7 linked regions of the Homo sapiens genome follow. The protein of the gene in region 5 interacts with the protein of the main gene of each other region in a biochemical or structural test. Each region holds a gene or a part of one and is shown on either strand. Other genes may lie near its edges.

Evidence for each region.
Region 1: the proteins of SNTG1 (region 5) and CNKSR2 interact in a test that uses a peptide from one of them, tested with the Homo sapiens proteins (one large-scale study listed by IntAct).
Region 2: the proteins of SNTG1 (region 5) and GPRC6A interact in a test that uses a peptide from one of them, tested with the Homo sapiens proteins (one large-scale study listed by IntAct).
Region 3: the proteins of SNTG1 (region 5) and CD46 interact in a test that uses a peptide from one of them, tested with the Homo sapiens proteins (one large-scale study listed by IntAct).
Region 4: the proteins of SNTG1 (region 5) and CLDN14 interact in a test that uses a peptide from one of them, tested with the Homo sapiens proteins (one large-scale study listed by IntAct).
Region 6: the proteins of SNTG1 (region 5) and OR8G1 interact in a test that uses a peptide from one of them, tested with the Homo sapiens proteins (one large-scale study listed by IntAct).
Region 7: the proteins of SNTG1 (region 5) and DACT1 interact in a test that uses a peptide from one of them, tested with the Homo sapiens proteins (one large-scale study listed by IntAct).

Annotation. Positions count from the first base shown.
Region 1 is NC_000023.11:21,377,418-21,380,917, reverse strand, and holds part of CNKSR2 (connector enhancer of kinase suppressor of ras 2), read right to left. Parts: intron 1-3,500.
Region 2 is NC_000006.12:116,794,835-116,798,083, forward strand, and holds part of GPRC6A (G-protein coupled receptor family C group 6 member A isoform 1 precursor), read right to left. Parts: intron 1,002-3,249; coding exon 878-1,001; intron 1-877. UniProt on the Homo sapiens protein: Receptor activated by multiple ligands, including osteocalcin (BGLAP), basic amino acids, and various cations. Activated by amino acids with a preference for basic amino acids such as L-Lys, L-Arg and L-ornithine but also by small and polar amino acids.
Region 3 is NC_000001.11:207,750,886-207,754,853, forward strand, and holds the start of CD46 (membrane cofactor protein isoform 3 precursor), read left to right. Parts: upstream 1-1,168; 5' UTR 1,169-1,327; coding exon 1,328-1,424; intron 1,425-3,968. UniProt on the Homo sapiens protein: Acts as a cofactor for complement factor I, a serine protease which protects autologous cells against complement-mediated injury by cleaving C3b and C4b deposited on host tissue.
Region 4 is NC_000021.9:36,477,323-36,481,413, forward strand, and holds the start of CLDN14 (claudin-14), read right to left. Parts: upstream 2,801-4,091; 5' UTR 2,173-2,800; exon of another isoform or gene 52-2,172; intron 1-51.
Region 5 is NC_000008.11:50,789,407-50,792,906, reverse strand, and holds part of SNTG1 (gamma-1-syntrophin), read right to left. Parts: intron 237-3,500; coding exon 78-236; 3' UTR 1-77. UniProt on the Homo sapiens protein: Adapter protein that binds to and probably organizes the subcellular localization of a variety of proteins. May link various receptors to the actin cytoskeleton and the dystrophin glycoprotein complex.
Region 6 is NC_000011.10:124,239,925-124,243,894, reverse strand, and holds the start of OR8G1 (olfactory receptor 8G1), read right to left. Parts: upstream 2,801-3,970; 5' UTR 2,531-2,800; intron 1-2,530. UniProt on the Homo sapiens protein: Odorant receptor.
Region 7 is NC_000014.9:58,636,636-58,640,761, forward strand, and holds the start of DACT1 (dapper homolog 1), read left to right. Parts: upstream 1-1,326; 5' UTR 1,327-1,567; coding exon 1,568-1,912; intron 1,913-2,201; exon of another isoform or gene 2,202-2,627; intron 2,628-2,777; exon of another isoform or gene 2,778-2,856; intron 2,857-4,100; coding exon 4,101-4,126.

The sequences.
Region 1 (3,500 bases), on a different chromosome or scaffold from region 5:
AAATTACTTTATACTCCCTTCCCCCAACCTTTTTTAAAATTAGTACAGATGATCCACTCTTTTAGTACTCTTTTTAGAAGCTAATAACTTTATTCTTCACAATAACCCTTATGTGTGAGGTACTGCAGGGAAGACACATAGAAAGCTAAAAGTCATTAAGAACAAATTGAGGCTGGGTGCAGTGGCTCACGCCTGTAATCCCAACACTTTAGGAGGCCGAGGCAGGTGGATCACTTGAGGTCAGGAGTTCAAGACCAGCTTGGCCAACATGGTGAAATCCCGTGTCTACTAAAAAATACAAAAATTAGCCAGGGGTGGTGGTGGGTGCCTGTAATCCCAGCTACTTGAGAGGTTGAGGCATGAGAATCACTTGAACCCAGGAGGCGGAGGTTGCAGTGAGCTGAGATTGTGCCACTGCACTCCAGCCTGGGTGAAAGAGCAAGACTCTATCTCAAAAAAAAAAAAAAAAAAAAAGAACAAATTGAGCCCTAATCTAGGGTTGCTCTGTTATAAATAAAAATGATAATTTATCATTGCTTTAAGAACAGTATTAATACTTAAAAGTCTATTTCCATTCTTCATATAAGAACTTGGTTCAGTAAAATTCGAAATATCTAACAACATGTTAATGATTTGTCTTCAAAATAATTTAACATTATTTTCAAATCATTCCTGAAAAACAGATTTGAAACAGCTGTACCAATTCAATACACATTCTTTGTGGGCTTATTTTTGGCAGCTAAAGTTTTATAATGTGGCATTTATTTAAACTCAGGACATGATGAGAGTTTTATTGTCTTTGTGAAATGCAGATTTGTTCTTGTACTTTTGTGCCACCTACTCATGCTCCTCCCTCACTTTCCCTCTACTGCCCACCTCTCTCCTTCATCCAGACAAACCTATATACAACCCCCCTTTAGTTAATAACCCCATTTCAACTCTAGAGTTTCTTGCTGTGCCGCTACATTTAGTATACATCCCTCTTAGATTATGCCTTAATTAAATAAGTAGCTTAAATAGTTGCTAGAACCCCACCCTCCTCACAGATCCCTTCCTGATTCAATAAAATTATCATCTTCTCTTTCCAATGGTGCTCATATACAGCCTTTAAAAAATTACTACATGTGCTAGTTGGCACCTCTCTCTGTCTTTGCCTAAGTTTGTCAATGTCACTACCATCCCTTACAGAGGCTAATTTCCCCAAAGCAGAGAATAATTAATTTAAAACAACCCATTAAAGCACCCTCCATGCAAAAGCACTGAGAAAATAATATCTATGGAGCAAATATATCTACATAAATATACTCCTTGTTCCTAATCTGCACTAAATCATGAGTGTTACATTAAGGAGCAAATGTTAATAACACTATAAGAAAAATAACATTTCTTCTGAACGAAATTCTACATATGGAAAAGATATATTTCTTCTTTACATAAAATGACAAGAATTCCTGTTCCCCAAAAAAGTCAAATCCAAAGTAGACAATTGTTGGTGCCAATTTAGTCACCTTTCAATTGAAAAAAAACCCTAAGTTTTCAAAAGGAAGTGATACAATTTGATCACTTAAGCTTATTTGCAGTTCCTGCCAGAAAATTATTTCCAATCTCTCTCTCAAGACAGTTTAACTCAAAATTTTGATATTTTCCTTTATGTAACAAAGACAAATTTCAACCTCAGCTCTGGGTCCTATGACGGGAAAAAAGAATTACTAAAGAGTATTGTACCTGTCAAAACATCTTTGCCTTATCCAACACATTCTCCTTTACAGCATTTAACTTTTATACTGACTAGACTTTATATAATCACTACATTTTCCTCTATTACAGGACTGTATACAAAACATTGGTTTTGCTTTTTATACCTAAAAGAATGTATTTTATTTTCTATCCTCAAGATGGCTGAGTCATCAGGACAGAAATTAGAAGTCAGAGAATGCCTCTTGAAGAAATGATTTATAGTAAACAGGAAAGAGTAGAGCAGTTGATTGTGGAATGGGTTGAGAAAAGGCTATCTTAAAAATTTAGATTATTTTAAGAATCATAATAATACAAAAGTGGCTGGAGCTAAATCACAGAGATGGTAAGAGAAGACAAGCAAAATGGGGCCTATTGGTTAACTCTGAAAAGTCATAATCATTTTATTTGACCCAGAGAGATTAAAGATTACTGGAAGAATGTAATGTAGGGAGCTGAGTCCTAGAAAAATAACTTAGTCATGTGGATATTTTGAATGAGTCTCAGAGTTGGAAAAGATGTAAGAAAAAAAAATGGAAAGACTGGGTGTGACACGGACTAGGAAAATTAATAATAAAGTTAATAACAGGGGCCCTAAAGCATTCAGGGGTTTTTGTTATATTTCAGTGGGCAAAAAAGTAGAGATGGTCTGGGGACTCAAATAACTGCAAATTATGAAATATTTCCAGGCCCTGCAAGTGAACAGGTAGGAGCTGAGAAATAACTTATTTTAGAATAACAGATGGAGGAAAAATTAGAACAATTATTGGCCTACTTTTCTGCCTATGGCTTTTTCCAATAACTTATTTGCCTCTATTTACCTTGAAAATAGTTTATGTTTTAAAATATAAAAACTACAAGAGGATTGGATGCAATTTCCAATTGAAGAAGGTCAGTTTCAAATGCTAAATTATGAGTATTTGATTTTCTCCAAAAATATTTTTATAAGATTAATATTAAAAATTAATTTGAAGGTCTATAAGATATCTCCAAATAGCCAGAAGTACTATCAGGATAATTTGGGATATAGCTACTTATTTCACTGACTCATAAGGAGTTCATGTACTTACTGGAAATAACATTGACACTGTGTCATATCCAATTTTTACTGTCAGTAGAAAATTTAGTTGAGTATTTGATTTTACAAATAATGAAGTTGGTGAGCAAAAGAATACAAGGATTTCCTTATATTTTTACTACTAACAATATATACATTTTATATTTCCATCTCCCTCAAATATTTTAATAAAAATTGATCAATCAAAATGAATCCATTTATACATTGCATCAAAATTGCAATGTAAAAATTGTCCCTCATAAATAATCTTGAATATATGCCACTAAAGCTTAATAATCTTGTCAGCTTTTTTTCCCCCTTCATTTCCCTCTCTGGGACTGAGTTTCTATACCACTTCTACAAATTGTCTAGAATCATAAATATATGGCCATTCCTATTCTTACACACTTAGCGATTCTTTTTCTGTTTAGTGAAGAAAAAAATACCCTAGAAAGTACATAAAGAATGTACCTTACTAAACAGAGTTACAACTATTTATGATTGTGACCAGCTGAAAGCATATACTATATGCTTTTAATGCTAAGGATGATGAAACTGTCTCATTAGGAGCATCCTCTGAAGAACTCCCACATTGCAGTTGTTCAACAGTCTTGTTCATTCTTTGGTACTGCCTTTACAACACTACATATTATACAACACTAAATGAGGTTTAGCCATCTCAAAGCTATAGCCTAAATTAGCAGTTGAC
Region 2 (3,249 bases), on a different chromosome or scaffold from region 5:
CAGGTTGGAATAAATGGCATTTTTTGTGTGACACATAACAGAACATGAATCTTGGAATATTTTCATTGGTATACTTCTCTTCTTGAAGCCAGTAAGCAAAAAGAATAGGCATTTGGGGACTATTCCAGTTCCGGAGTTCTCAGCTTTTCTACAAGATGAATGGGAATGCTCTAATAAACAACAACATCTGATGCTTTTAAATTAGGCTTAACTCCAGGGAAAGTGCTCATAGTTTCTTTTTAGGCTCCTAAGGCTGCTGACCTCACTCTTGTACTTTAATTTGTGTATTTTGCTTTCATTTTGTGAAATTTTTAAAGATAGGGTTGGCAAACAGTCATTTACTAGCATCTCATCCCTGTTGATAGTTGGTCCCTTGTCTCACAGAAGTTTCTTTTAGGTTTAACTTTTGTTTCCTGGTAGAAATAATAAAAGTGCCAGGATGTGCACACCTGTTTCTTAACTCCGGGTGCCTCTGGGTTTCTATTATGTTTAGTTAATTCAACATTTACTTATTTGTATTTTTTTTGTACCTCAGTTACAAGCCAAGCACATCTGTATAGGGATACATGGACAAAATTGACAGAGAACTTGCATCACTTTAAGAGTTGCATACTTTAAAAAATATGAGCGAAGCGATAACATTTTCCCTTGGAAGTAAAGTAACTTTTACATCTCTATTATTTATTTGCTGTGCACCTGTTGACATAATAGAGCAAATTCCAAGATAAAATGAAATTTCACTGGAATTTAATTTCACAGGAGCATGGGAAGCTTTTTAAATTTTTTCAAATGAAAAACAAACCAAAATAAAATTCATGCAAAGAAAAAAAAAGCCTAAGAGGAATGATTCAGGTGTATGTGGAGTGACTGTGATTACCTGTCTGATTAGTGTAATGATTTTCAGGACAGTTCTGACATTCATAGCAACAGATGTGTTGACTTCTTGTAGTTTTCTTCATTTGCCCAGGACTGCATTCCTTGGAGCATTTAGATTGAATTTGCTATATTAAAAGTGAAAAAAAAAATCACAAGTAAATTTGTAAAAAAAATTATCCTAATCGATTATCCTCGGCTTAACTTAAAGATATATTTACTAAATACTATTTTGGTCTTTTTTCATAGGATTATAGAATCTTTTTGCCATCGTGGGAAATGTAAACAGGATTTTAAGATGGAGAAGCTGCTTTACGAAGAACACAGTTTTTGTTGCATTAATAACTTCTGTAAGCAAATTATGGAAATTAGCCCTTTCAGAAAGTCCCTAGTAGAGGGAGAAATGTGTAGTACTAGAACTAAAGAAAATAATGACGGTTTGGAAAGTTTCAATCCCATGTTGAATGAAGGGTTCCACTAGATAAGAAAATAGCAAATGGCTAGATTTTTATAATCTTTGAAAGAAAGTTTTTATCATGCTGTCAAGGAGCATGTCCTGTCTAACTCCAAAAAATAAAAAAAAAAGAAACATTTTGAGTTTAAAATAAAATTTAAAATTTAATACTCTAATTTAATATTAGAATATTAGATTTAAAAGACAGGCCTAAATATATACTATTTAAATAATCTTGAGAATTCAAGTTATAATTTGCATGTCACAATTTGAATCACTGCAGCGTTCTACTTTTATGGAACCGTAGCTGGTAATTCTTTGCATTTCAGCTATGTTATTCTCCATTCATAGTCCCTTTCTCACAGCATATCTTGTGAGAGAAATCTGCTTTGTCATGTCACTTTTACCCTTGGAGCAGAGCAGAATGGTTAAATGAGTCTTTCTCAAGATTCTCTTATCCATAATTTCCTACTCTGGAACACAACTGAAGTACTAAGCTATCCAGTCTTTCTCTGGAAGATGCAAATGATCTGTCTGAGAGAGAAATGAAAAGATTCAGTAGGCCCTGGGTCTGCAAGCACTGGTTTTCTTCTTCTCTCCAGTTATTGCTGACCTGGGTTTTCAGCAGGCAGTATATATGCCTTGGGAATTCCCCAGGGCAAACTTTTAACGTATCTACTCTCCTGGAGGGTGCTCAGAGGACACAAAAGGATTTTATTTATTTATTTATTATTATTATACTTTAAGTTTTAGGGTACATGTGCACGATGTGCAGGTTAGTTACATATGTATATATGTGCCATGCTGGTGCGCTGCACCCACTAACTCGTCATCTAGCATTAGGTATATCTCCCAGTGCTATCCCTCCCGCCTCCCCCTACCCCACAACAGTCCCCAGAGTGTGATGTTCCCCTTCCTGTGTCCATGTGTTCTCATTGTTCAATTCCCACCTATGAGTGAGAATATGAGGTGTTTGGTTTTTTGTTCTTGCGATAGTTTACTGAGAATGATGATTTCCAATTTCATCCATGTCCCTACAAAGGACATGAACTCATCATTTTTTATGGCTGCATAGTATTCCATTGTGTATATGTGCCACATTTTCTTAATCCAGTCTATCATTGTTGGACATTTCCGAGATAAAGCCAGACATTGTTAGGGTCCCCTCTCTCCCTCTGATCAAGAGCAAAGACAGTCTAAAATCTTGTACTAATTACTTTAGATTTCAATTGATTTAGGATTATCTGATGTTTTGGACTATGAGTTCTGGTGACTTACCAGAAATGTCAATACCCTAACTAGCCTGCAAATTGACAAATCCGGAAATCTGACCTAAATGATTTCAGATATTGTTGGTTTTTACTGTATCCTTGAAATAATTATAGGTGTCTCCATCAGAAAGGAAGACTTGTCTCTCTGTTTGTAGTGGTCAGCCTCTTCCATTTAGTCACTAAGAGCCTCACATAATTACCTGTCATTCTGTCACCTTCTCTTCATTAAGTGAATTCCCTACAGAGTCTGGAGATAAGTATTGATAACAACAGTGTTTCTTGCAAAAATAATAACCATCTCTGCATTCAAAAAGGAAATGAATCAGAGCATGTTTTAAAAGTTTCAGTATGAGTTACAGTGTTTAGCAGAGTGCTGGGTTCGTAATGTAGTTGTGAGGATAATGGTAAGGAAAATGAAGATGATGACAGTGAAAGTTTGAGAACACAGAAGAATGGCTACGTTTCTGTCTTTCAAGGAAGAAGTATCTTGCTTTACTAAAACTTTTACAGCCAGGGGAAATCAAATTAAGGAAAATGGTTTACAGCATTACTGTGTTCATTCTTTCATTCACCAAATATTTGTTGAGTGCCTATCTATATGTTAGGCACTGTTCTAATTGTTGAAGCCACAGTGGGGAATGAAACACAAAT
Region 3 (3,968 bases), on a different chromosome or scaffold from region 5:
ACATCAGAGTTTTGATCACATCAGAGCTTTGATCACAGCTCTGATGATTTCTCTGGGAACTGAGAGCCTAACACAAGTCATGTCCACTTTAAGACTTTTAACATACTGAAAAGTTATGTTACAGAGTGCTGGTCCCCCTGCAACACGTTCACTCACATTGGCTGACGTTTTAATTCTTTGCCAATCTGAGGGGAAGAAATGTCAACTCTTTGTTTGCTCTTTTAATGTCAGTCATGTCCTTTTCCTTTTACCGGTCATTCCGGTTTACTCACAATCCTACAAATCAATCCTGCTCATTCTTAATTTTCCAGTATTGTTCCTCAGATTGTTTCACCAGAAAAGTTCTCCCCCTTATCCACTCTTCACCTAACAATTTCTACCCATCCGAATCCTTCTGCATTTATTGCTTCCAGGAATTTGGCACTTAGGACACCCTTGTCCTTACATTGTTCATGCATGTATATTTCGTCTTCAATAAAAAATTTAGTTGCTCAAGGGCAAGGGCCCCATAGAGTCTCAATATTCTAATTGCCTGGTGTTGCTTAATAAATTAGATTCGGAAGGGTCCCCTCCAGGGAGGGGAGCAAAGGGCAAATTACCTTAGGGGCTGGGAGTGCAGAAGCCAAACCTTTGAGATTGTGAAAACAAGACGGCCCCGAGACGATCCAGTAGCAGGCATTCAAGCAAGAAAAACTCAAATATTGTTCCCAATAATGCCTGACTAATGCCAAATACCAAGTAAGGGCCCAGGCAGTCCTGACAGCCTGCAGTGCCCCAGGATAAAACTAACCCTGAGGGGTGCTAGCCCACGGTGACCCCCTGTCTAGACTCTGGATCTCTATTTTTAGGTCGAAGTGCTTTATTCTTGACTCCCGAATTCCCGGAAACTATTACCAAAGCAGCTTAGTTTTCTCTCCACCCTGCCTGGGTCACAAATATGACGGCGAGCCAGTCCTTTCCCGCAGGACGCCTCAGGCTTCCGGGATGGTAGGCCAAGGGCTTAGCAAGAAAAAAGGCGGCCTCGGGGAACCTGTTCTGTTAGGTTCCGCCAGGGCCTCCCCCTGACCTCTCGAAGGCCAAGGGCTGCCCATGAACGCCGAGGCTCCGCCCCGCGGCCCGCCGATTGGCCCCAGCCGCCCTGGTGACTCGACGCACTTCCGCCCCGGGCGCGGCTCGGGCCACGCCCACCTGTCCTGCAGCACTGGATGCTTTGTGAGTTGGGGATTGTTGCGTCCCATATCTGGACCCAGAAGGGACTTCCCTGCTCGGCTGGCTCTCGGTTTCTCTGCTTTCCTCCGGAGAAATAACAGCGTCTTCCGCGCCGCGCATGGAGCCTCCCGGCCGCCGCGAGTGTCCCTTTCCTTCCTGGCGCTTTCCTGGGTTGCTTCTGGCGGCCATGGTGTTGCTGCTGTACTCCTTCTCCGGTAGGACCCCGGGGCGGGTTCGCGCGTCCGCGGCGAGACTAGAGCTCTCCTCAGTCGGGCAAGAGTCGCGGGGCGGGGCTCACAGCAGGCCGTGCCTGTTTGGGGACAGGGTTCTCTGAGGGGTGCAGTGCTCAGATCCCGGGGGTATGTGGCGGGGAATGCGGGGACCACGCAGAGCCCGAGGTGAAGCTTGTTTGGTGGCGTCGTGTGCGCGGCCAGCATTTACGCAGGATCTGGCTGCGTCCCTAAAAAAAGCGTGAATCGTGTTTTCGGGATTGAGCCAGTCGGCCAGGGGAGCGCGGACTGGGCGCCCTAGGTGAGGGCTTGTTCTGGAGTGCACAGGTGCGTGGGAGTGTTGCTAGGGCCCGTGCTGTGTCCGTGGTGAGAGTTTGCCCTGTGTTCCCTTGGTGCCTTGGTGAGTGGGGTGTTCATTAGGGCTTGGACAGTACCCGCGGTAAGGGTTGCAGTGCGTCTGCTGTGCCCCATGTGCTGGGCTGGGCGAGCAGGGGCCTGGCCAGGTGTTGCTGGGAGCGTGCTGTGCGTAAGTGGCCTGTGTGCAGAGTTCACTGTGGGCAAGACAGCTCAACTGTTTGCTTTGAATGGAGTGAGCGCGGACTCTGGGGCTAGGGAGGGCATGTTGAGTGAGAGCAGGCTCTCGGTGCCTGGGGTTAGAGAGGTGGTAAGGGCGCGCCATGCTTTTTGTGCCTTCTGTGAACAGTCTCCGTGTTACCTGAGCTCCTATTAGTTTGTAAATGGCTGCTTTTTTGGGGGGTGGGTGGGCCATCGAGTCTTCTTCCTGTTCCCAACCAATATAGATAGTATCTGATTCCATTGCCTAATGGCTTTTTGACATTGTTTTCCTTCTTTTCATTACTTTGAGTCATATTTGAGAGATGTGAAACAACCTAAAAAACAATGGTAGCCAAACCTAGTGAGAAATTAGTATCCTAACAAAGGAAGGCAGATAATGTTAATCTTGTTTTCCCCTGCAGCTCATAAGCTAAAGCTTAAGGCCTATCCCACTAAATTTATTTTGTATTTCATTGAATGGAATCAATACTTTTAAAAATGCATGCTAGGCCAGGCGCAGTGGCTCACGCCTGTGATCCCAGCGCTTTGGGAGGCCCAGGCGGGGTGATTGCCTGTGCCCAGGAGTTCAAGATCAACCTGGGCAACATGGCAAAACCTTGTCTCTACAAAAAAATACAAAAATTAGCTGGGCATGGTGGTTTATGCCCGTGGTCCCAGCTACTCTGGGGGCCGAGGTAGGAGATTCACTTGAGCCCAGGAGGTGAAGGCTGCAGTGAGCTGTGATCATGCCACTGCACTCCAGCCTAGATGACAGAGTGAGACCCTGTCAAAACAAAACAAACAAACAAAAAAAAAACCCGCTAAGAAATACATGCTTATTGTGCGATACGAACAGAATCAAAAGACAGCTATTTTTAATATTTTGGCATATTTGTTTCTGCCTTCATGTGCGCGTCATGTGTATCTATGTCCAAATTATATTTAGGATCCAATAACATGTATAGTTTCTACGTTGCATTTTTTTCCTTAGGAGCATTCATTCAACGAATATGGGTCTTGTATGTCTGGTGCTATTACACTGGTAGGCAATAACAAACCATTCCTATTTTCTTGATCCTTTTTTCACTATTTGTTTACACACACATTCATGCAGGAAGATAAGCAGGGACTTTGTTTTGCTCAATGATAAGTGCTCAGTGCCGGGAACACAGTAGATAACCAATAAATTATTTGCTAAAATGTATTGGGATTGGCAGACATTAAAATCCAAAACATAATAGTGACAAATAAATTATGAACCAAGGGAAGTGCTCTGGAGGCAAGCAGTATAATTTTCAGATATAAATCTGACAGCATTTAACAAATGATTGGAGAGAGGGAAGGCTTCTCTGCTCATCAAACAGACTTTGGGGCATCTGTGCTTGCTGTTCCCTCAGCCCAGGAACATTCTCCTCCTGACCTGCTGCAGAAACAGTCTCGCTCTTCTGCAAACTCAGCTGGAATGTTACACCCTCAGAGACCTTCTCTGATCACCCCACCTCGCGACCCCCCCATCTCAGGTTGAACACATACAACCCAGTTCAAGTCCCTCTTCACTTGTAATCACCCTTTTAAAATGACCTTTTCTGTTCTTTGTCTCACCCTGTCAGAATGCAGGGATCCTGTCTGTCTTGTCGCACTTGTGGTTCCAAAAGCCCGATTTGTTTACCTCTGTATCTGTTAAATACCAGAAAATTAAATATACTATTTGGCTGGGGCTTAGAGCCTAGGAAAAAGTTCCTCCTGCCTCCAAGAGGAAGGTTCTTTAAAGAGCTATGCTCAGGATGGTCTTTCTGCGGTACCTAAAAAGCTAGGGCAGTGGCAGCTGAGAGCCAGAAAGGATCTGTCTCCCCTATTTGTTGACTCTGCAGGGCTTCCAGTACTTCAGTCTTGCATCTCACTGATCATTAAAACGTTCATTTTGAAGGAGGGTAATGGGAGTAGGGAGTAGTGGTGATAAGAAGAAAACAAAAG
Region 4 (4,091 bases), on a different chromosome or scaffold from region 5:
TCTTGCAGTGTTCTGTAGAATCGAAAATATGGTTTCATATGTTTACTTTACCTTCATTTAAGTGTAGCCCTGATGCCTCTGCGAATATCTGCCATGGAAGAGCCTTTTAAAAACAAAGCTCTTGCTGGTCTCCAGTGCCCAAGAGTGGCCGCCAGTGGAAACAGACCTGGTGTTCTAAATCTCAGTTTTTGTTTCTTTCTTCTTCCAAGAAAGCTGTAGATGAGCATGTGCACTTCCAGGCCTAGAAGGGAACAGCTGCCTCTGGGTGGCTCGCCTCTTTGCACAAGGGGCTCAGCTCAGAGCTTCCCCTAAGCCTGGCAGGTCCCCCCGACACTTCTCTTGGGAATGAAGTGGACAAAGTGAGTGAATGAGCCTCAGCTTCTCCTGTCTTTTTATAGAGTCACCCGACAGGGAGAGATAAAGGAGGTGGTAGCAGCTTAGGCCCAGGAGCCCTCTCAGCAAATGGCCCAGAGTAGAAAATTCCCCACACTATGTTGCTGTTGGTCACCCGGTGAAAAGTCCCTGGCCCTGGCAGCCACTTGTCCTGCAAATGGTGCGAGTGAAGAATCCACAGATTAGCTGGAAGGAGGAACGTTTGAGTTTGAAAACGCCAAGAATCATTCCTGAACTGGCAAGGCTGGCCACCTGCGTTTTAAAAACACATTGGCACTAGCCTTGAAAACAGACTTTTAGACTTCTTACTCTGCGTAATGAAAGATCTTTTCTGATATATAGGCAACAGAATGATTTTTTTAAAAACAATAATGGACATATTCCATTTTATTGATCTTTACCTAAAAACTAAAAACTAACTGGAAAACAGGAAATATTTAATAGTGACATTTTCATAGCACCAAAGGAAGAATCTACGTGTCTTCCTTTTTATAGATTTTTCTGTAGATGTCTTAAGAAGCATTGAACCCTTTATACAGATGGGTAAATAAAACACAGTAAGCTTGAGATATGCAAATCAGATTGGAGCCAGATAAGGATGGGGGCTGGCGCTGGCTTCAATTCTGACTAATCTTGGGCAAGCTGCTCAGCCTATTACTCACTGTCTACACAGGAATGACTGTCTACATAGGAATAGCTCCTCTGCAGAGACATCTAGAAGATGCTGAGATAATATATGTAAAAACTGACAAGCCCTTTGGGACAGATACCAGCAAATGCAAGGCGTATGCTATGGAAGTTTTATCATCCTAACAGATAAGCCCGTCCCCAACTCCAGTGAGTGACTGAGAGACACGGGCATGAACGCTGAGCTCAGATGACAGCATCTTTTCACAGCAGACCTGGGCCCAGCCCCTGGAAGCACACGATGATGAACTGTCCTCTGGTTTCCCAAGACTTCAAAAATGAAACCCAGTGATCAAGAGATGTTTGGCTTTGAACACTGCGGGAATTAAAGCCAGCACCCAGTTAAAGCCAGTGAGGACAGCACTCCAAGGTTTGGGGACGGTCTCAGGACACTAATCCTGGTTCCTTTTCTATTTTGCCTGGGTCCCTCCTGCCCATCCTGGGAAGCCGTGGCAGCTGTTGGGGATGTGGGGCCCCAGGTAACTGAAGGATTAACTCACGTCTCAAATTGCATGGCATTTCTCCTCTTCAGCACCATTTTTTACCCTCATTGAGAGAGATCTATCACTTCCCCCCCTCTCCTGCCATGCCAATATGTGTCTGTGTTGGAGGGCAGGGGTGTATTTAGGGAGCAGGAGAATGTTCCCAAGTCTGGAAACTCGGAACAGTCTGCCTGGCCCTCTTTGCAGAAAAACGAGGGAGTCCCAGCAGACAGAAGGGGGCAGTGGCGCTGAGCTCCCCGAGCTGAGCTGTGGCCTCAAAACACTGAACAGATTCAGTCCTTCCTCCCAAACAGGCCTGGTAAGCGATGAAAAGAGTTCTGCCCAAACACTCAGGAACTGGATTATTGTCGTTCCTGGCTCATTAGGAGCCTGGCTGCCCTCATGCCAGCTGCGTGGGGTCCTCTGGAGGCCACCCAGACCAGCCTGCAGCTTCCTTTCCTGTAGGGGCCAGCACGGTCCCTTCCTCTGGAGAACGCTCGGACCCCTGGCTGCATGCACATCTAACCGGCAGGGCCTAAGGGCTTCCAAAACAGATGACTGTCAACCCCAGCCCGCCCACCCCACATCCACAGCTTCACCCCAAACTCACATGCAGAAAACCTCGAGTCTCATCTTCCTGTTCAGGTCCCTTGCCAGCCGGAGCCGCTCTGGAGCCTGGCTGGACTCCAGCTCCCATGTGCAAGAGGACTCAGCCGGGACGCTGCCACCCTCCTGCCTTCCCTCTTCTGCCAACCAGACGCTTCCAGGACGGAGTATTTGAGAGAAAATTGTCTAGACAATTACAGTGTTCCTTAGAATGGCCTGCGTGGGCACACGTGCCACTTGGTTAGCTAGCATGAGAGGAGGTGGCTTGGCCAGAGCAGACATTCAAGACCAACCAGAAATGTCATTTCTGCACTGTGGAAAAAAAATGCACGATACACCTGAACCTGGGCATCTCCTTCCTAACACGCGCTCAGGATCAAGCCTCCCCTTCCCAGCCTGGCAGGGTTGCAGGGCGTCCATAGTCCAGCCTACGCCTGCCCAGGCTCTCGGCTCCGGGTCCATTGGCTGTTCACACTCACTTCCCTGTGTCCTGGAACTGCCTGATTGTTGTAGATTACTAAAAATCCACAGCTCATTCCCTCCTGCGCCCTGACCACCTGCCCACAGCGACTGTGTCCTCCTCTGAGCCACCACCTGGCGGTTGTCCTCACACTGCTTTGGACTTTTCTGCTATTGAGTAACTCAGCTTCTCAGCCTTTAGGCTGCTATGGGCCCTAGATGCATGCTGGTCGATTCTGATCAACGAGCAACTGCTTTTGTTTGTTTGCTTTTTTCTACAGCTGCAGCTGTGGGTGATTCGGATGGTCTGTTGGTGGAATGTGGAGCTGGACGGGTCAAGGAGCACAGTGTGGAAAGAGGGACAATTTGCTACAAGTTGGAGATAAGAGACATGGCATACTGTGAAACCAGTGCTGACGGAAGAAGGTGACTTTCTTGGAAGGTCAAGACACTTGCTTGACAGCGATGTCCAGGAGGGCTAGGGAGAGTTCTGCTGGAAGTGAAGGCAGCACCTGAGGGTGGCTGAGGGAACTGGTCAGGGCTGGGAACGCCTCCAGCCCTTTGAGGAATGATTCGCTGATTAAGAGATGTTTGGCCTTGAAAATTGCAAGAATGAAATCTCTTGGTGGGAATGTGTAGCCAAAAGCCAGCACCCTGAGTGGCTCCAAGGTTTGGGGACCCTCTCAAGGCACAAATCCCAGTTCCTTTTCAATTTTGAAAATCGTTGTGGGCGATTCTGGAATTGAGAAGTGTGCTGAGAGCCATGGATTTAACATGACAAGAATTTCCGCCCCTTCGTCACTGAGCACACCGCAAATGCTCCAGGGCCAGGGACTTACTTGGGCTTCTGCGTGTCTTCCACAGTGTGCATCAATCCGCCGGGCTCTGGTTGGTGTTTAAAAAAAAAGATGCAGCGAAGGAATCTGGTGTGGACAAACGCCCTGGGCATGGACCAAAAGCCTGGCCCTTGTGTCCCTGGCAATGGGACGGTGAAGGACAGAAAGACAGCACATCCAGTAGTGTCAGGAGCTTGGAGCAGGCATTCGGAAGCATCTGTTAAATGTTATTGATGGAGGATTGACATAACCCACATCTGCATAGCTTTTTTGGTCTGTTTTTGGAAGTGAACAGTCACAAACAAAAACAACTTTGGTTCAGGTCATTTATAGGCCCAGATCCTCTATCCTTAGAGGTTTCCCACCAGATATACTATTTCACTATCTATGCCAGGAAAGTTACGTAAAACCACGCAGAATTTTACCTGACAACGAAATAGACCTTTTCGTTAGATCCTCCACCCCACCTAAAGCAGTTACACAGGCTGAAATGAAACTGTTAAAGGAATGAACTAACTTGGAGATAGAATCATCGCCTTTGCTGAACACCATTTTAAGAATATTGGAATATATAGGGGTACCAGCATAATAGTAAAATGTGCCCATATTATCTATAATTTTATGCTGG
Region 5 (3,500 bases):
TCTCTAGGGTCTAAAATGATGAGTAAATGTGTCCTGCTTATACAGTCATGGGGTGTGTCAATGAAGAGTTCAGTATGTCAAGTTGTATACTTTGCTTTGCTCGTGGTAGCAGAGCTGGCAGCAGTAGAAGCAGTAGCTTGATTGCCTAAAAATAGAGGGTCCAAACAAGCTACCTTGGCAGCAAAGAAGGAATGAATGCAGTGAAGAACAGCAAATAAATTAGAAAATTCCAACTCCTGAAAGGGAAAGAGAAACAGGTCAGATAACATAAAAATTAATGTCTTTAAAAATTTATAATAGCTAGATTTTTTTTCAATTTCAATACACTTATCTAGAATCTATGATATGTAACATGTGGAAACTAATTTCAAATGTAGACATTTTTGGTCAACGTGTAAACATCGTAAGTAGTGAAAATTTATTTCAATACATGGTGGATAAGAGGTAGGAGGACTAATCACTCTTACCATCTATGAATGTTCTTTTAGCACTGATTGATAAATATATTTTGCCAAAATTTTACTCTTGATAATGTACAATTAAAGATAAACTTGGAAGTACTTTTAAAAGTATTTTTATCTCTTTGTGCACACATCAGATGATAAATATGGATTAGGGCAATTTAAAACTATTCTTGAGTATTCTCTAGAATGAGTTAATATTTGCCATAAGAAACTGAATAAGAAATGCTAGAAGTAAGGGGATATGAACTCTTATAACCAGAGGAGCCAAATGGTTCACTTTCAAAAAATAATTCCTGCATTAATTTTAATTGTGGCTGGCTGTTTAATGGTTTATGTGGCATATTTACTAAAAAAAAAAAAAATAAACTAGAGCTCACTAATTCATTTTGGATTTTTAGAAATAGGTTTCTCATTTAAATACCAAAGGAAATTTGTAACCCATTTATTACCAGTGGCAACCAAACTATATATATTGCAGTGAAAACAGAAAAAGTTATTTCAAACCATAATTTTGTCAAAATAACTATAAAATCTTAAAGCTATGCTCAGAATACATTTAGAAAGATGATGTTGCTAGTATTATTATTAAAGACCATCAATAATCACATAAACATGTCTTAATTTCAAGATGATTGAAAGACTAATACATTTGTGTGCTTAATGAAATCAATACGATGAACTTATCACAAGGAGGGTAACTAGAGGGTAATAAAGCATATGAAATTTCTGACAAACTCATTGCTATTTTATTATATATTTCACTACATATATGTAATAAAGAATTTAGAATTATAATTGATATGTACATGACTGTGTTTACAACTTACATGTGGCAGTGGAAAATATTACAAAATATTCAATACTTTATGACACATTGTAATATCTGTCGTGTACCAGACAGCTATTTAAATAAAATAATTCATCCGAGGAGTATTTTCTCAGGTCATGCAACAGGAGTACGATACCCCATAATATATATTCAGGTGTCCCTATAATATAGAAGACATAGCTATGCTTTCTCAGTAGCTCCCTTGAAACCTTCAATATTTGATAGTTTCCTTTGTGAAATAGCAACTTGTCCTAGAGAATAGAAGAGGTTATTCATTTAACTATTCTAATTCCCTTAGATATTTCCACCAAAAAAGTTTTTAGTAACTCCATCATAATGATCTTAGAAGCTTTATTTATAATAATCTGCTTCAGTGGCACTAGTCATGTTATTTGTAAATAAGCAAGTTTCTCTTTGCCTTAACTCACCCTGGAAATCCTCCATTCACCCCATAATGCTTGGTGTAGCCAGTTTATTTCCCAAACACATTTTAAATACTTTCTCTATCTTCCCAAATTAAATCCACCTAATGTGAAAGGTTTGGAAATTTTGGGAAAATGTAAAATGTTCTTGCATGTTATTAAAAAATAAAACAACAACAACAAAAATAAGCAATTCATTCTTGGTAAGGAGGAGAATATAGTTGAGTGTTACAATTGGGTGAAAATAGTATGGCAAATAACTTTTTCTCAAAGGTAATTCTGCCATCTCTTTATTAAAATAGAGGTTATATTTTGGTTACCAAAAATAAACAACCCTTAAATATCTAAGTATCCAGGCATCTTTAGAAAAATAAAAATTTTCAATTACTCCCACCTTGTCAATTATTTATCAATAATTTGATATAGATTGACACTTTAAACTTTTTATACCCATTTTGAAGTAATGGTAGACGGGAAATAATAGCAGGTGATTAGAAGAGAAAGCAGGAGACCAAGATGGATCCAAGTTTGACTCTTCATTACAATGCCCACACATCTTTCCTCTGCCTCAGTGATCAGCCTTGGCAACCATTTCCACTCCTAGGGTGTCAACGATTCCTTTTATGTAAACTCACACTGCTCATTTACTAATTTCTTATGTGAGTACTAGACCTGCATTCTTACCACCTATCAAACATCCACTGATGATGAACATCTATCTATCCATCCACCGACAGCTTCCACCAAGTCACAGACTTACAAGTTTCCCTTGTAAAAAAAGTCTTATGATCATCATGATCCCTCAGATATCACTAAATATAAGCTATCTTCAAAAATGTAAAGAGTCAGCCATTCAATAAAATACCAAATGCTTCCTATGCATCTACTCTTTTTTGTTGTTGTTAAAAGATAGCAGTGAATAAAACAGACAAAAACAAACAAAGGAACAAAACAGTCCTGATGGGAGTTACTTTCCAGTGACAGGAGGCAAAATGTGACTAAGGGCAGAAATAAATTAAGGACAATATGTCAGAATATGACAGTTACCATCAAGAAATAAAGCGGAGGAGACAGCAAAGACTACTCAAAGGGCCGTGGGAAGGAAAATTCATGTTGCCTTGTATATGGAACTTGAAAGGGAAGATGGAGTGAGCCATTTCCATGTTTGTGGGGAAATATTCCAGACACAAGAATTATAATTTTAAAGGCCCAGAGATAGGGACATTCCAGGAGAGTCAGAAGAAAAGCAAGGGTTATTTTGTGTGGAATGGAATGAATTAAGAAGTACTTGGCAGACAATGAGATCAAAGAAAACACTTTGCATGCTGCATGAGCCTTTATGAGTTTTACTATGAGCGACATGGGAAACCATGGGAAATTTTTGAGCAGAGGAGTGACAGGCATTGACAAAAGTCAGAAAATGATGATTCTGGTTAGACTATTGAGAATGAGCTTTATGAGAATTGGATTGAAAGAAGGAGAAGTTACAAAGTTTTCTATATGGAAAGGGGTTGAATTTGAAAGTAGATTTCAATAACTGGAAAAAACGTGTTGCTCTGCAAATGGAGAAATTATGGGAAAAGCAGGTTTGGAAGTAAAGATCAAGATTTTGGTTTTGGGCATGTTACATCTGAACGCATATTAGACATATAGGTGATAAGTGGAGAACTGCATATATTAGTGTGGATTTAAGGGAAAAATTAGAGTTCAGAATAGAAGTTCAGCTTCTGTCAGCACATAGATGGTAGGTAAAGCACTGTGGTCTGGATGAGAAGATCAAGGTGT
Region 6 (3,970 bases), on a different chromosome or scaffold from region 5:
AGGTTTGTTACATAGATATACATGTGCCATGGTGGTTTGCTGCACCTATTCTAGCTCGCTCTTTTATTCAGCCATCATTACTGAGAGACAAGGGGTCGAATACTGACCCGAAGCCAAAATGCATGAAAAGTAAAATGACACATTCCCTGCTTTAATAGAACTCTCAATCTAATTCTATCCTGTTAACAATGTTTTCAATAATTTAGTTAAGATTAAAATGGAAATGAGTGATCATTTAATGTACAGATAAAATAAAACTGGAAGAAATAGCCAATACAATGAATACGTGAATTGATTGTTTATACAACCCAACAGGACTGTGTTAAGAAGAAGAGAAATACTGTTGTAGAGACTTGATACTAAGTCTAATATTCACCATAATAAGGGATGATGTGTCAATTATTTCAATAACTGAAGTAAAGTTAGAGAGGCATGCAACTTTTGAATGGTTTCCCGAACGAATTCAGAGCTATTCTGTTATATATACATTTAAAAATGTATTTTCTATTATTTATGTGTCCTCATGTGATCACTATAGGATCAATATGAGGCTCTGAAAAATACTTTACATGTACACAAAATATAGTCTTCTGTTAATACAAGAACAAATAAAAAATATAGGGCTCCTGGTCTATTATGTTTACTCCTGCGTGTTAAAAATTGGGTATATATGACAGTAGCAATAAAAGGTCTGACCAAAGCCAGCTAAGTAGGGTTATAAATTATATAATATCAAAGAATAAGGTAAGGTCACTGAACATCATGAATATCAAAAGCATTTTTCTCTACTTTTTTAGTCATTTACGTTTTTGATTACTTTAATTGTAATCATCATAGTAGGGATTACAGCTGGGAAGAGTTCTATGGAATTAAACTGTGAAACTTTCTTTTTGTGAGTTATACATGGATTTGGGAATTGACAATTCCCCATGGTATGGTCTACACACACCCTTTGGTTAACAATATTCCCAAGTTACTGTAACTTCAGTCCTAAAATATTATGACAACCAGCAAAATGTGGTTGGTTCTAGACACTGAAAATAGCTAAAAAAAACAAGCTAAAATTGAGTGAGAAAAATACTTAACTTCCAGTCTTAGTTTAAATGATTAATTCTTTATGTACAACATATCTGGTTTGAATACAATTCATAAGAAAACATAAAAGTGTACTTCTGTATTAACTAAATGAAGTCCATAGAATAGTGGATGATGGATAAAGCAAGGGGAGATTCAGATTTCATTTATAAAAAAAATAATGGCTAGACTATGATGACTAGCAATCCATGTAAGATCTGTAACATAGCTTCCAACTCATATGCCATGGAACTGAAATGTAGGGAAAGGTTCATAATGGTTCAGAGGTATTGGTCTGTAGCCCTCGGGTTCTCACAGATAAGACTGTGGCATTCAGAGCCAGTTCACTGGTCACCATCAGCCACAAGCTTTCTCATCCAGTAACTTCATTATGCCATATTAATATGACCATCTTCTATGTGCTCATGAGGTTAGAAAGCACCATTCCACACTTATCATATTACACCTGGAGTCCATCGTTTTCCAATGGATATATTTTTAAAAGAAAGACATTGATAAGATGGAAGGCACACAAAAGCTGTCAAGAGCTTGGGAAATATTTGCAGGCAATGAGATAATTAGTGAGCATTTTCATGTATCCTAAGAAGAGCAAGGATAAGCTTTAATTTTGTGTGTGGCATTTGAAAGATTTATGAATACATCTTTTAATAAATGTAACTAACCTGCACAGTGTGCACATGTACCCTAAAACTTAAAGTATAATAATAATAAAAATATATAAATAATTTACTACTGAAAAAAAATAAAAATAAATGTAAAGGAAAATATTCTAGTATTTGAGTTCTTAGAAGTTGAATGAGCTACTTATTCCTGGTCATAAAATACACTGGACCAGAAATCAGATGATGATTCACTTTCAGGGACACTGATGAACAGGTTGCCTTAATTACACTTAGGATAAAGTACACAGATTCATGCTATCTCTTGTCCCTCTTCACTTTTAGTTCCTGTGATCCTCCTCCTTGGCTACAGGAACACTTCGCTTCTTTCAGTTCCTAGAGTCTGTCACATTCACTGAGCCTTTTCATTAGCTATTTCTTTTACATTAGATAGTCTTACCAACACCTGTCTTTCTGATGTCTGGTAAATATTTACTTTTCAAATCTCATTTAAAATGAAGTCATCATGTAAATATTGTCCAGTTTATTGTAATTAAGTTGATCTTCCTACTGTAAGCTCCAAAAACTCTGATTTCCAGACAGCACATTTTCTTTGACTGAGTTATTCTATAAGCCCAGTGATGGACCCGAGCTATTCTCCTCTGTATCTCTAGTAACTAGCAAAGTGGCTGGCCCACTGAAGAGGGTTTAAAAGAGCATTTCATAAATAATTGAATAAGTAAAGATAATGAGGAATAATAGTTTCCTGATTTTTTGCAAAGATTATTTCCAGATCTAATAGTCTCAAATCACAAGTGATGGATGAAAACACTCACCTTTCCACTGCCTAAAAACTTCAATGCTTGATTTTACTTGCAATTTCCTCTTCCTGACATGGAGAATGTTGGCTTGGAATGTTCTCTTCCTGACATGGCATTAATGTTGGTGTTGAGAGTCATAGACACCCAGCATTCTGGAATCTTTAGTGTTGAGAGGGCAGGGCCCAGCCCTCAGTCTCAGAGTCACTTTGAAGCTGGTCTGCATCACAGGTCAGTATTTCTAATTATGACTTTGCAGTTTTTGTTTCTCCAGCTTCAGGGTGGCAAGCATCCTCACCTGAGCAGCTCTGATTGCTGTGCTATAAAGGCTTGCCCTGGGTTAAGATATGCGAGGTACCAAAAAACATGGAGACAAATACTCTCCCGGGATTTCCATTTCTCAGGGACCAAATTCTTGGAAAAAACCAGCAATTACACTTGACATTTCCCCAGTTGTCTAATTTTCCTGTAAACGAATTCCCTGTCAATTTTAAAATTGTCAATTGGTGGTAAATATTTGTGCACAAGGATTATCTCTGCTAAAATGCAGATTCTAATGCAATAGGTCTGAGTGGAGCTTGAAATTCTGCATTTCTTACATGCTTCTAATGTAATTTAGTTCACAGCACACACTGTGATTAATATACTTGAGAGGACTAGGCACATCCTGACAAGTTATCTTGTACTGATAATAAAGTTAAAAACTTTAAAATAACACACTTTTTATTTCCTTGCAAATAGACATATTTAGTTTTAATTTGTGTGTAAATAGGTAATTTATATAGTTGACTGAAAATTCAAATCTGTTTATAATTGTATTTCAGGAAGCATGGTGTAATAATTTAGGGATTGATATAATACTTAATTTTTGAGTTTCTTTGTTGATTTAAATTCTGCCTCCTAATTTTTATAACTGAAGAAAGTATTTAAGTTTTGGAGAAGTTAGTTTCCATATAAGTCCATATAAGTGCCCCACTTCTTACTTTTTATGGTTTTTCACTTTCTTCAAAATAAAATTAGATGAAATTTTATATTGAATGTGCATCAAATAAATGAAGGAATTGAAAAAGACTATATGGGAAGTTACATATTAGAAGCTCTGAAAAATCGTACAAAACACTAGGTTTGATTGTCTTTAAAGAGAATGAAGTAGGTCTAGATCAGTGATTTTACTATGGCTGCACATTTAAAATCAACAAGGAGTTTTTTTTCATAATCTCATCCTAGATTACAGCCCATGGCACATTGGACAATAAGCAGGCAGCACAAATTAGAATAGTAAAAGGCAAAGCAGTGGGCATACTGGAGTGTACAATCACAACACACACGTGGGTCTGCAACTTTGACTCTAAAGTTTTGAATAGGTTTCTGAAGTAAAAAAAAAAAATAATGGAAGAAATAAGGAAGACAAGTTTAGTTAGTTGAATCGGGCAGAAAAGAGACTGCTGCAGGCTAACA
Region 7 (4,126 bases), on a different chromosome or scaffold from region 5:
GGGTAAGCAGATGGGCAAAAGTGCAAGTGTCTGAAATAATGATATAGGATGCACTCTTTCACACAACACTTTGCCTGAACTTCAGCAATTGTGACTTGCTGGATTGAATTTCCGAGGTTCTTGGATGTACTGCTTTTAAAGATATATGTGGTACTTTTCCACAGATAAGCCAGCTAGTGGAATTTTCAGACCCCTATCCCACCGGAAATTTCAGTGGGATAGGGGTCTGGAGTAGTGTGTTCCAAGCAGAGATGACCAATACATGATACTTCAAGAGGGAAGACTTATAAATCCCTCTGGAGAAAAGCTACAACTCATATCACCTTTACTATCTATGTGCTAGCCACGTTGTAAGTGCACAGCCCCCACAATATATAGCATATGCTGCATACTATTATAATTCTTCAACAGCAGGTTCCCATAGCAGCTGCTCCCTTTTACAGTGGGGGGAACGTACACAGAGAAGGGAGTAAGTTGCCCGCACAGCTATTTAGGGGTGAAACTGGGATACAAATCCAGACAGTCTGATTTCTGAGTCAGAGCTCTTATTGTAAACGCAGACTAAGTAATAATAAAAGCTCAAACAAAAACCAAAGCGCGCACGCGCGCGCACTCAAATCGTAGGCTTGTAAAAGAATTGATGCAACCTCTCGCTATACAACGACATCCTCCTGCCTAATTTTAAATGCCGTCCATCGTAAGACCGACGTTAAAAAATTAAAACGACAACAAAACTTAAGTTTTAGAACACTGCATTGTGCTCTGTATTGCTTGCCTTTACAAAGTGGAGTTAAGGAACCAACCCCACAGTGTCTGTGAATACACTTGCAATACCTTGCTTGGGAAGTGAAAGAAACCTAACTCGGTGTGAGTGGAAATGAGGAGTGGCCGTGTGGGGAAAGGGTTAAGACTGTGCTGCAACTTGGTCGAGTTTCAGAAAGTTCTCCGGAGAGCCCAACTGCCGCGTCCCGTCGCGGCCCCTGCCTGCGCGGCCGACTGTAACAGGATGCTGGGGCTCCAGGCGCTCGCCCCGAGCTTTGGGCGACGAGAAAGAGCCAATGAGGAGCGAGGGCAAAATCGGGTGCAGTAAACCCGAAAAGGGGGCGAGGAGGCCCGCGAAGAGAGCGGGGGAGGAGGCGGGGAGGGGCGAGGAGGGGCGGGGAGGGCCGAGCGAGGAGGAGGCGGCTCTGGGGGCCGGGCGGCGCGCCTGACAGAGGAGGGGAAGCCTGGGGGCGCAAGCGTCGCAGCCGAGGGGCCGGCGCGGGGAGGCGGGCGCCAGGCGGGGGTTTGCAGGGCCGCCGCGCGTGACGTAGCGCCGGGCAGGGCGTTATCAGCTGCCGGGCCGCGGCGAGGGACGCGCGGCGACAGCGGACGGCGCTGCCCGGGCCGGGACAGCAGCAGCCGGCGGTCGCGCGCAGGACTCGAGGGCTTCTAGCCACCGTCCCCGCCAGCGCCGCGCCCCGCCACAGGGCGGCATGAGCCCACCCGCGGCCGCAGCCCTAGCGCCCTGCTCCTCCGCCTGGGCGGCCCGGCTGCGGTGACGGCTCTCGCTGCCCGACTGGGGGCCATGAAGCCGAGTCCGGCCGGGACGGCGAAGGAGCTGGAGCCTCCGGCGCCGGCCCGAGGCGAGCAGCGCACGGCGGAGCCCGAGGGGCGCTGGCGGGAGAAGGGCGAGGCAGACACCGAGCGGCAGCGCACCCGGGAGCGGCAGGAGGCCACGCTGGCCGGGCTGGCGGAGCTGGAGTACCTGCGCCAGCGCCAAGAGCTGCTGGTCAGGGGCGCCCTGCGCGGCGCCGGGGGTGCGGGAGCCGCTGCGCCCCGCGCTGGGGAGCTACTGGGGGAGGCGGCGCAGCGCAGTCGCCTGGAGGAGAAGTTCTTGGAGGAGAACATCTTGCTGCTAAGAAAGCAATTGGTAGGTCGTGCCCGAAGGTGGAGCACGGCTGTTCCTGCCCAGGGGCTGGAGGTCGGGCAGGTGGCCTGGGGCGGGCGCGAGGTTGACTCTGGCTGGGGAGATGCTCGCTGTTATGGGACGCCCCCGACCGCCCCATACCTCCCTGATCCCCTTCCTGAGTGCCCGCGGCGTGTGGGCTGCCGACGCCCACGCGTTTCTGGCGTGTGCCCGCTTTGTGTCTGGCGACCTCGCGCGGATTGCGGGAAGGGGGTGGCCGCTCTTCCCTCCTCCTCTGCCTTCGGGATTCTTGGAGTCGCCTAGTTCTAACGTTCGGTCTCCTTAGTTAGATGAGTATATGCCCTCTCCCCAGCGGTTTGCAAACTCCCACTTAAAATACCATTTTATTTGGAGGTTTTCTTGACTTTATCTCCTCCCGCCGAGAGGGGCCAAAAGCCAAGGAGGGGGTTTGTGGCGTGCTTAACTGTCCAGGGCCGAGTTTTACGATTACACTGGAGCGCCTGTAGGGAGCCGTGCCTCTCCGAGAGCTCTCCCCAGCATGCCAGCTTTCACCCAGGCTGGTGCTTAATTTCAAATAGAAGCCCTTTGTATAAGGCAGCTCAAACTAGATGGAAATGATGGAAATTTGGCTGGAGACTGTGTCCCCTCCTCTCATATTTTATACGTTCTGCCAGCTGTGATTGGTGGTGGAGGTGGGAGAAAAGAGAACCTGCTCTCGGTAAGCATTTATCTTACTGGGTTTCTGTCAGTGTCTCAGTCTTTCTATGCAGTCTTCATTAATGGGGAAGAAAAAGAACTTTGTAGCTTAATGTATTGATGAACAGCTTTTGACCCCGCCTCAGAATAATGGCGACAGCTTTGTTTTCAGTGACCTTAAAATGTAGTTTTGGAAACAGCAAACGTCCTCACCTGACCAAGTGATACTATCTAAACTAGACACATGCCAGGTAGTGGCCCTCCCACAATAAAGTGGTGATGCTGTGCAGTTGTCATGTGTTTTCTTCTATTATCTCTTTTCAGATCATTTCTTTTCTCTGTGTGTGTGTGTGTGTTTTTAAGCACCAAAGTGCTTTTACTTGATAGGTTCATTTTTCCTGAAGAAATTAATTGTAGCAAACAAACATACAATTTATGTCTCCAAGCTTTTTAAGTCAAAAGACAAGAGGCGTAGATATTCATATGCATGTGTTTTGTAAGGATGTACACTGTGGTTTGTGTAATATCTCTGTTTTGGCATTTTACTGTGCTGCTTCGGTCACAGACCAGATTCCTATGTAACATTCATTTGAGCCAGTTCTCACTGGTTATGGCTGGTGACTTTTACATTTTATTGTTTTGTGCAATTGCACCTTTTTGTCTGCATGAATCTCAAGATTGTAAGTGGCGCATTCCTATTGTCCGCTTGAGGGGAGCAAAGCAGTATGTCAAGAGAATTCCAGTCCAGTCAGTATTTATGGTACTATTTTCATTTGTAGACTTGGCATTCATGATTTGAACCAGATGCTTTTTGAGTTCTCCCGTTTTTCCAGCAATAGGAAGCACTAGGTGGCAGTGTGAGTTAGCACAATCCATCTGTCACCTTTGGAAACCCAGAGGCGTTCAAATCTCGATGGGCCTTCCCATGAGGGTTTTGGATTCTGCCAGCTCACATTATACTTGGCACTGGCTATTAGTATTAGTTTCTCACTTTCAAAGGCTCTAAGACTGATTAAACCCCACAAAGCAACTAATAGAAAACAAAACTCTGCAGGCCAAGACATTTGGCCAGAAAATCTCACCTAAGATTATAGTGTATTATAGGAAATCTCTTACTCTCATTTCAAATTAAAGAGTCTACTGTGAAGTATTGTTTTTTAAAAGACTGGTTATACACCAGATGATTTAAAGTCTCAGTCCATTTTTCTTGTCCCTATCTATGAAAAGTCAGTTTGTATATATTAGTTGAAACTAAAAACAAGTCTTGTTTTTATGAAGAAACTTTATATCACCACAAAATGTGAGAAAGTGGAATTAAACATAGGACATATTCTTGAATTCTCGAAGTTTTTCGTTACTTCAGGTCATCCAGTAAAATTTTGGTTTTCTAAGTTTAGTGAACTCTTCAGATGGGTAATTTGAATCCTTAGAGTAGACTTTCTGGTTCTTTTGTCACCCCTGTATGTTCATGTTTCCTTTGTTTCTTCCTAATCAGAACTGTTTGAGGCGAAGAGATGCTGG